Regions from separate parts of the Homo sapiens genome. Here region 2 is linked to region 1. The links come from fine-mapping of genetic effects on gene expression. Tissue or cell type: tibial nerve. Region 1 holds a variant in brackets; the other region holds the start of a gene. All regions are shown on one strand. Distances are between the middles of the regions.

Region 1 (4,316 bases):
AGCCTCTGAGAAATCTTACAGTAAATAAACTCATTTCATTTTGTTTAACTCAGTGTTTCTCAAACTTATTTAAGAACCTCATGGCACACAGTGTACCTTGGGACGCCAATTTGGGATTCATAGAAACCCATAATGATTTGTAAAATGATTAAAGGTGGTATAAAGTCACGTAAAATATTTCTGTCTCATTGAACCTCACTTCTACAGAAGATATATGCAATGACAATGTTCTTGAATTAGGGGTTTCTGAAGGTTTTGCAACTCATTTGCACAGGAATACATTCAAATCATCTGCAAATGTAATATTTTCCTTTCTTAACTTCTTACTTTTTGAGCAATTTATTTGTTTTTCTTTCTCCATAACTGTTTTAGAGATTTTATATTCTGCTGTTTGTTTATTTTACTTTGTTTTATTTGTTCATTTGACAAAGCCATCTGTACAGTGTTCTAAGTGCTTTATTTATAATGGCTCATATATCTAGCAACCCTGTGACTTAGGCGTCATTATCCCTACTTCAAAGGTCAGAAAACTGAGTTTCAAACGGTGATGAGGCATCTTACCTAGATCCTATTTTTTAAGGAACACAGTAACTAATGTTTTCCTTTAGTTATATTATTAATTCTAATTTTAAATATAAACTTCGTATCATGTAAAGAAAGAAAATCTTCATGAGTTACCTTTAGTCAACACTAAATATTGAACTATGCTGGATAGCTTTTTTAGCCTCCATTCAGATAATTATGTTTTCTACCATTTTTCCATAGGATGCTAGCTTTACTTTCCGGAGGCCAACAGTCCTCAGTTAGAATAGATTACTTGTTTCATTGTGTTGCGTTTTCTGGGTTAAGATTAATATTTTACTTCTAAACTCATAAGTGAGATTAAACAAACATTCCTTTTTTTAAGCAGGGAGTGAAATCTCATTTACCTCAGTCAACTCAATATACAAATATTTATGGAGTGGCTGCCATGTTACTCTGTGCCAGAGACTGTAGAACATGAAAGATTCAAAATGAGCATCTGAGAGAACACAGAAGGGAACTGACTTTCTACAAGCATATAGCAAAAAGAATCATGTTAGAGAAGACAACAACCATGATTTTAAGAACTTTATAAATGCCCAGAATCTGTATAACTTCACACTTGTTATTTTCTATTACTCCATTTTGGATCCCCCAAAGACCTAAGCTCTTACTTAAATGCGAGAGGCCCCAGGTCAACCAAATGAAGCAGCTCCATGAGGGAGGAGTCTATGTCCATCTTGTCGCCCACCATCTGGCCAAGTACCCAGCATACAGTGAATGCTCAATAAATATTTATTAAGCAAAGAAATAAGTCAGCTCTTTGAGCAAACCAACCGGTCAAGACAATTTTTAAAATGCAGGACAGCTAGAGACTTGTTTAATGGGTGAGCAAGAAAACAGGTATTGCACAAATTTCATCCTCATCTGAAGTCACTCCAAGGAAGCTTGGAAGCATGGGAACAAGACAACAGACAGAATCCCTTAGGCCTGGAGAAAGAAGAAAGGATCACAAGCTTCCTTTCCCCTTAACAGACCCAAGTGTCTGTAGAGCCCCAGGTGCCCCCACCTGGCCAAGTAGTTGGCCTTTTGGACCCCAAAAGTTCTCATATCCCAAGCCAAGGGGAAATTGGTCTACTCCAGCCAAGCCTCCTAGCCCCAGAAAGCCCATGGGGTCAGGACTTAGGGACAATCAGGGAACATATAAAAGGTCTTTCCTGCAATAATGGTCCCTAACAAGCCCTGAGCCAATCACCTGGTAGCTGGAGCCCAAAATACCTTCCAACCCAGGTAAGTAGATATTATATGGTGACTACAAAGATATATCCCATCAAGTGAGCAAACTTATCATATTCACATCCCTTTTTTGTTTCCATTCCTATTCATGTTTTCAATGTCCCCATTCTTCACTCGCCCCATCCCCCACTAAGTCCCTTTCTCCATTCATTGCAAGCCCTCTTAGTTTTTTCTTCTGGATCTGATGCCCTTAAGCCATCCCTCCTCT[G/A]TCTCCGATTCCAGGTCCACACCTTGCCCCTACTACGACCTCTCCCACTGGGCCCTGCCTGATCCTCTTTCTCTGCCCCTGTCCAGTTGCCCACCCTTGTCTCCCCCTCTTCTCCTCGCTCTATCCCCAGGATCCTGTGGGCGGCTGTGAATTTTGCCCTGTGCTTCCTTCTCTCCTCTCTCTTTGTGGTGGGGTCCACAGCCAGTTCTCCTGTTGCTCAAAAATGTGGAGGCAGTTGCTAAGAGACAGCGAAACGTCAGTACCTGGCCCTCGAGGAAAAAAAAGGGGAGTGAAAAAGGGAGAGAACTGGGGGAGGGATGGAGGGAGGGAGAGAGAGAGGGTGGGAAGGGGGGAGGGAGGGGGAAGACCTGGCTCTGGCGGAAGCCTTATACCCCAGCAGCCTGGGCACCAGCTGAGTTTCAGAAAGAAGCATTCAGATTCTGTGAACTTTCTTCCGAGCATCCTGTCTCTGTGATTTCCCTTTGGGTGAAAGAAGGGGCAGGGGGACCGCAGGACGGGAAATCATAGAAGATGCTGGCCTGGGATCCGGGAGACAAGGAGGAGGAGAGGCCGGGGGAGGGGAACAGCCTGGGAGGCAATCTGTTCTGAAGCAAGCAAGGAGCAAGCGGGGATTCCAGGAGGAGGGAGGGAGACCCGCGTCTGCCGCAGATTGATGGCTGTGTCCTTGGAACGGAGTGAGTAGGCTCCTGGGGCCTGTGGGAGTGCGAGGGGGAGACCTGGGGCTTAGAAAAATGAGTCTGCATGAAGGGGAGCTGGGGTGATTTCCAGGTGGGCGGGATTGAGGCTTGAAGCGGTAGGAAAATAGGCAGCGCCAGGCCGAGGGTGAGGGGAGGACCGAGGACAGCAGGTGGGCAAGGGAGAAGCGAGAGGGCGCGGGGCGCGAGGGCTGAGGCTCTGGGCGTGGCATCACTCTCGGTCCCTCTGCTGGGGGCGGCGAGGAGAGTGCAGTGTGTGGAAAGGGATGCTGGGATGAAGGGTGTGCGCTGAGAGGGGGGCGAAAGATGCTGGGGGTCGACTGGGGAGGGGTCTGCAGAATCGCCTGTGCAGAAGGAAGCTGGAGCGAAAACCGCGAGGCGTGAGCACGGGGCAGGGCAAAATACGGGGGAGTCACAGAATGGTGTGTGAGTGAGTGTGTGTGTGTGCGTGTGAGAGAGAGAGGAGTGCTTAGAGTGTTTGAAAGGGGTGTGCAAACCCCCAGAGTGTGGATGCAGATTTTTCTTAGGGAGTTGTTCAAGGGTGGCGTGTTTGGTACTAATGAGGGTGGGGTTATGAGAAGAAGAAGAAAATGCATCTAACCCAAGACAGGAACCCAGAGGAGGATGGCTGCAGGTTGGGTCAGGGAGGGCTCGTGGGTAACAGCAATGTGAGCCTGGGGTCTGAACCTACCATGGCCCACACCTGACAGACAGTAAGCAGAGAACTTTGTGGTTGGGGGAGCAAAGGAAAGAGACAAAGATAAGCCAAGCGTCCTAGGTGAAGGGACAAGGGAGTGTCAAGGGCACAGGATTTCTCTGCCTGAGTGCTTTCCTTGTTGACAGAGGGAATTTGGCCTCCACCTGCTGAACACAGAACTGCGCTGAGGAAGGCACTGGCTTGGAGAAGATGCCAGAGCTCTGCCAGCTGACACTCAGCCTGCACCTTCAGGACTCATGACTTCTTCTGGCCCCAGAGGCCCAGACAGTGGGCATCACCTGGGGTCCTCCTCTCTTTGGGAAAAAAAGAGGCTTCCTGGGGATTCCAGCAGCCACTGAGGCTGAGGACTCTCAGGCTTTTAGGAGGCCCATGGAGACTCACTTCCTCCCGGGCCCTTTTCCCAAAACACCCACCCTGGGACCCCCTTGGACTCCAGCCCACCAGGCCACCAGGACAAATGGCCTCTGAGACCTTCAACACTGAAGACCCAGGTGCAGCCCCGGCTTCCTAATCAGTCCCAGACGTGGGACAGGACTTAAGTTTTCTCAGAAGAAGTGCCAAGGATCTTTAAAGGGCACGTTTCATCTCCTTCAGCCCCTCCCTCCCAGACACAGCACCAAGAGGAAACATCCAGCAGGCATGGGTGAGAGAGACACAAAAGATCTGCAGGAACTCTTCCAGGACTTGCTGGCAGCTGACCTAGCCCCATTCTTGTCCCCTCCCTTTCTCAGGTTTTGATCATCATTCCAGACCCTAGGGGACCTCAACTGGGTGTCTTGCCCCCTAGGCTCCGGAAGGGGACCTCCCGTGGATCTCAGGAAGCCCTCTGGTGCTCAGAGGCTCCTGGGAAAGTCCC
Region 2 (4,000 bases), 57 kb after region 1:
GGCACCAAGTAGCACCAGTGCCCAAGAAAGAAATCAGTATGATGGGGTAAGATGGGGAGATGAGGAAACCCTTCAGCTCACAGTTATGCAGGAAGTCAGAAACAGGAGGACTCGGGGAGCGAGCCAAGCAGTGTCTGGACTAAATGCAGACACCCCTCCATCCTCTCTCTCTAGTTGCCCTTCCCAACTCCCCACTCACATAATGAAACCAAGGAGTACATCCATTCATCAGCCCTGCTGCCTTCCAATTCTCATAGAAAATAGAGGAAGGATGAAAGGGTCTGCGGACAATTTGGAGAAAGCATATCTAGTCAGTGTCATGGTGCCATGGGGGAACTGCAGGAATCACACTAGCCCCAATGCCCAAAATGACAGGGAAGTGATCCAATTTTAGGGCAAGCTCTGGAGCTCCCAGATCTAAGGGCTGGAGCACTAATTATCTGCTGACACACAGCCCACCCCCGGCCCCAGCCCATTCCCTGCCTCACACTCAGAAAACAGGATAGAAAGCTTAAACAGGGTCAGTCTCTGCAAGCTTTGGGATCCTTAACCCTTAGTAGCCCTTCAGAACAAGAAAGTAGACAGGGGAGAAGGATGGATGGAGGGAGGGGGACGAGCTGTAGGAGGGGATTGGTGCCAGAAGGCAGGGATAAGGAGCGGCAGCTGCAGAGAGTGGTGGGGGAAAAACTACAAGGAAAGAAGGGAGGAAAGACGATTGCAGATCTAAGAAAGCAGCAGAGGGAAACAAGCTTTTACTGCGTCCAGACTCAGGCTTCAACATTTTAGGATCAATATGACTTTCCCCCATTTCATACCAATGGAGAAACTGAGGCTGAGTGAGATTAAATGGCTTGTGCAGGGTCAGGTCTGTAGAGCCCAGTCTCTTTCCCCTAAACCACAAACCTCTGAGAAAGAATAAAGCAGTAGAGGAGGACAGGGCGGGGCAGAATCAGGGGACAGTTAAAGGATGTGCATAGGACAAGGAGTAGCCACACTACCTGATTTTCAGAAAGCAAGGGCAAAGGCCGGGGAGGGCCGAGGGCGCCAGGCTTCTCTCTGCTCCCAGCCCTAGTCAACCACAAGGGTCTCCTGGCTGTAGGGGATGGATTTCTCGTGCATCTGTTCTCCACCCTTGCCCATGTTGGGGCCGGGCCCCTGGCTGTGCCCCGAAGAGTAGCTGGCTGACTTCTCCCCACTGCTGCTGTGGGAGGTGCCTGCGCACCTGCTCTGGCCACAGCAGAGCATGGAGGTGCAGGCCTGGCGGAAGCGGGGGTCGAAAAAGGCATAGAGGAAGGGGTTGAGGCAGCTGTTGACGTAGCTGATGCAGGTGCAGTAGGGGAAGATGTTCATGAGGAAGAGGTCAAAGTCACAGGGCCAGTGCAGCAGGCTGCCCAGCATGTACAGCGTCTTCACCAGGTGGTAGGGCATCCAGCACAGGGCAAAGGTCACCACCAGCACCACGATGATGCTGAGCAGCCGGCGCCGCTTCCGCAGGCCCTCGATGCGTTCCTTGCGGAAGTGGCCAGCGATGGTTTGGGCGATGAAGAAGTAACAGGTCAGCATGATGGTGAAGGGCACCACAAAGCCCACGGTGGTGGACGAGACCCCAAGGCCCACCTCCCAGGCCCACTCTGAGCTCACAGTGGCCACCATGGAGTAGTCCATGTAGCACTGCACCTTAGTGGTGTTCTCCAAGTCCCCGGTGGTGCGTAACACCATGACAGGCATGGCCAGGAGGGCGGCCAGCACCCAAAGAACTGCCGTGGCCACGGCCCCGCTGACCCGCAGCCTCAGCCGAGCATTGGCCACTGGCCTCACGATGGCCAGGTAGCGGTCGAAGCTGAGGCCGGTGAGGCAGAAGACGCTGGCGTACATGTTGACGAAGATGAGGTAGCTGCTGAGCTTGCAGAAGAAGGTCCCAAAGGGCCAGTCATAGTCCCGGTACGTGTAGGTAGCCCACAGGGGCAGCGTCACCACGAAGGTCAGGTCAGCCACCGCCAGGCTAGCAATGAAGATATCAGCTGAGCGCCTCTTCTCCCGGCTGCTCCGAAACACGGTCCAGAGCACCAGACCGTTGCCCGTGGTGCCCAGGAGGAAGACCAACATGTAGATGGCAGGGATGAGGGCCCCCGAGGATTTCCAGTCTGTGTACTCACACTCAGACTGGTTGTCTGCCCCATAGTAGTTGTCAAAATCACCACCTTCCTCCATGCTGGGGAGTGGAGAGAAGACGGGCAGAGGGTCCCAGGGACACCAGCTCCGTGGCTCTGTCACCCACTCTGCAAGCAGCCTGAATTTCTGGCTTGAGCCTCAGAGAGTAAGAAGGGCTGAAGATGCCCAGAGTCCTTCCCAGCACTCAGGAGGAGCTGCCTCTGGGTTCTCCAGACCCTGGAGGAAGCCTGTCTCCTGCAGAATTTCCTCCACCCTCTCTTGCCTTACCCCCGTCTCAGTTAAGACACTTCCTTGCACCCTCCTGCGTCCCTGTCTCCTCCTTGACTCGTCACTCCCTCCTCCCACCTCCAGACCAGCCCCTCTCTTGTGAGTCAAAATCTTTAGTGACAGCCCACTTTTTTTTTCTTTTTGTCACTGAGCAAGTGGACCAAATTGACCCCTACTGTGCTGGGCTGAACATTATCTGTGGTTTTGCAAGTCGGCTTTCCTGGCCCCGCCTCTCCTTTCTGGCTGCCACCCACCTTCACCCCAGCCCCTATCCCTCCACTTTCCTCTGGCCACCACTTCCTGCCTGCCCTTTAGGGCACTCCCTCCTCAGTGCTCTCCGCCCTCCTGTTCTCACCCCCTTCCATCCAATCTAAATGGGACACATTATGCAGATTGCAATCCAGCTTGAGCTGGAGCCAGGGCTGGTAGGGAGCAAGGAGGGTGTAAGATTTCGCAGGATGGGCAGGGCATCTGGCAGGTCCTCCTGGCAGGCAGGTCTGGCCCCCTCGGCTCCCTTCCTGCACCCCCAGCCCCCACCCAGACCAGGTGTCACAGGAGGGTCTTCTCCCACTTTGCCTCTCGCTTCATCTTTCTCTACCCCTTGGCTTTGACCCTCCCTCTGAGAACTTTTGTGGTTTCTAGAGAAATACCCCTACACTAGTGTAGACTGCAGTTTGCAGTTTGCGGAAGGCACAGGATGCTTTAGAAGGTTGAGGGCAGTCACAGGATGGAAGAAACCCAGGACAAAATTATCTCTAAACAAGTCATTAAATCTGTAGGAAACAAAGGCCCAACAAGGTCAATGTTTTGCCCAAGGTAATAAAGTGAATTATGCTACAGTTGATTGTTTGCTTTTCTTCTTCTCCAAACACGAACATAATACAGTACCTGGCATGTCGTAGGTGAATGGCTGTTTTGTTTGTTTGTTTGTTTGTTGAGACAGAGTTTCACTCTTGTTGCCCAGGCTGGTCTAGGCTCACTGCAACTTCTGCCTCCTGGGTTCAAGCGATTCTCCCGCCTCAGCCTCCCTAGTAGCTGGGATTGCAGGCTAATTTTTTTGTATTTTTAGTAGAGATGGGGATTGACCAGGCTAGTCTCAAACTCCTGACCTCAGATGATCCACCCACCTCGGCCTCCCAAAGTGCTGAAATTACAGGCATGAGCCACCACGCCCAGCCAGGTGAATGGCTGTTGAGTGAGTAAGTGGATGGATGATGTAGGAGGTGAGTGAAAAGGGGAATCCATAGATGGAAGAACAAGTGTAAGAATTACTACGTGGTGAGAACATGGATACATTTCAGTTCTCAGGTTTTTACTATCCTCCATGGACCAAGAGGTTTCTGTAAGACCACAGGGGGTCAGGAAGTTGAGCTAGAGGAGGGGGGTCTCTAGAGAAAGACTCAGTCACTGGAGGATACTGTGGGGAAAGTTCCGTAGACGCTCACTTTGCCCCAGCTCATCACCTCTCCAGGACCTCTAGGAAGGAAGGAAGATGCACGACGTAAGATTTTTTTTAAAAAATACGCACCCTTTCCACAACCTTGAAGAGTTGGGGAAGCCA

Alleles and levels. Alleles are on the strand shown, and positions count from the first base shown. SD is a standard deviation of normalised expression in the study named.
With allele A in place of G in region 1, the expression in tibial nerve of the gene that starts at base 2,457 in region 2 is lower (small effect, 0.33 SD a copy in GTEx).

What was found. PIP is the estimated chance that this variant, and not a neighbour inherited with it, causes the effect.
Region 2: APLNR starts here. The variant in region 1 is the best candidate, but not a certain one, in a credible set for the expression of APLNR in tibial nerve (GTEx, PIP 0.69).

The regions. Positions count from the first base shown.
Region 1 is chr11:57,177,563-57,181,878 of GRCh38, forward strand. The region is part of intron 4 of LOC105369309 (a long non-coding RNA gene); the gene reads right to left. Among named protein-coding and RNA genes, the nearest start is that of LRRC55, 2.2 kb to the right of the region's middle. The variant G/A (reference allele first, on the strand shown) is at 2,027.
Region 2 is chr11:57,234,794-57,238,793 of GRCh38, forward strand. APLNR (apelin receptor) reads right to left here and starts at 2,457. Exons shown (of 1, transcript NM_005161.6): 1 at 1-2,457. The coding sequence starts at 2,211. The coding sequence ends at 1,069. RefSeq lists an enhancer at 2,099-2,731.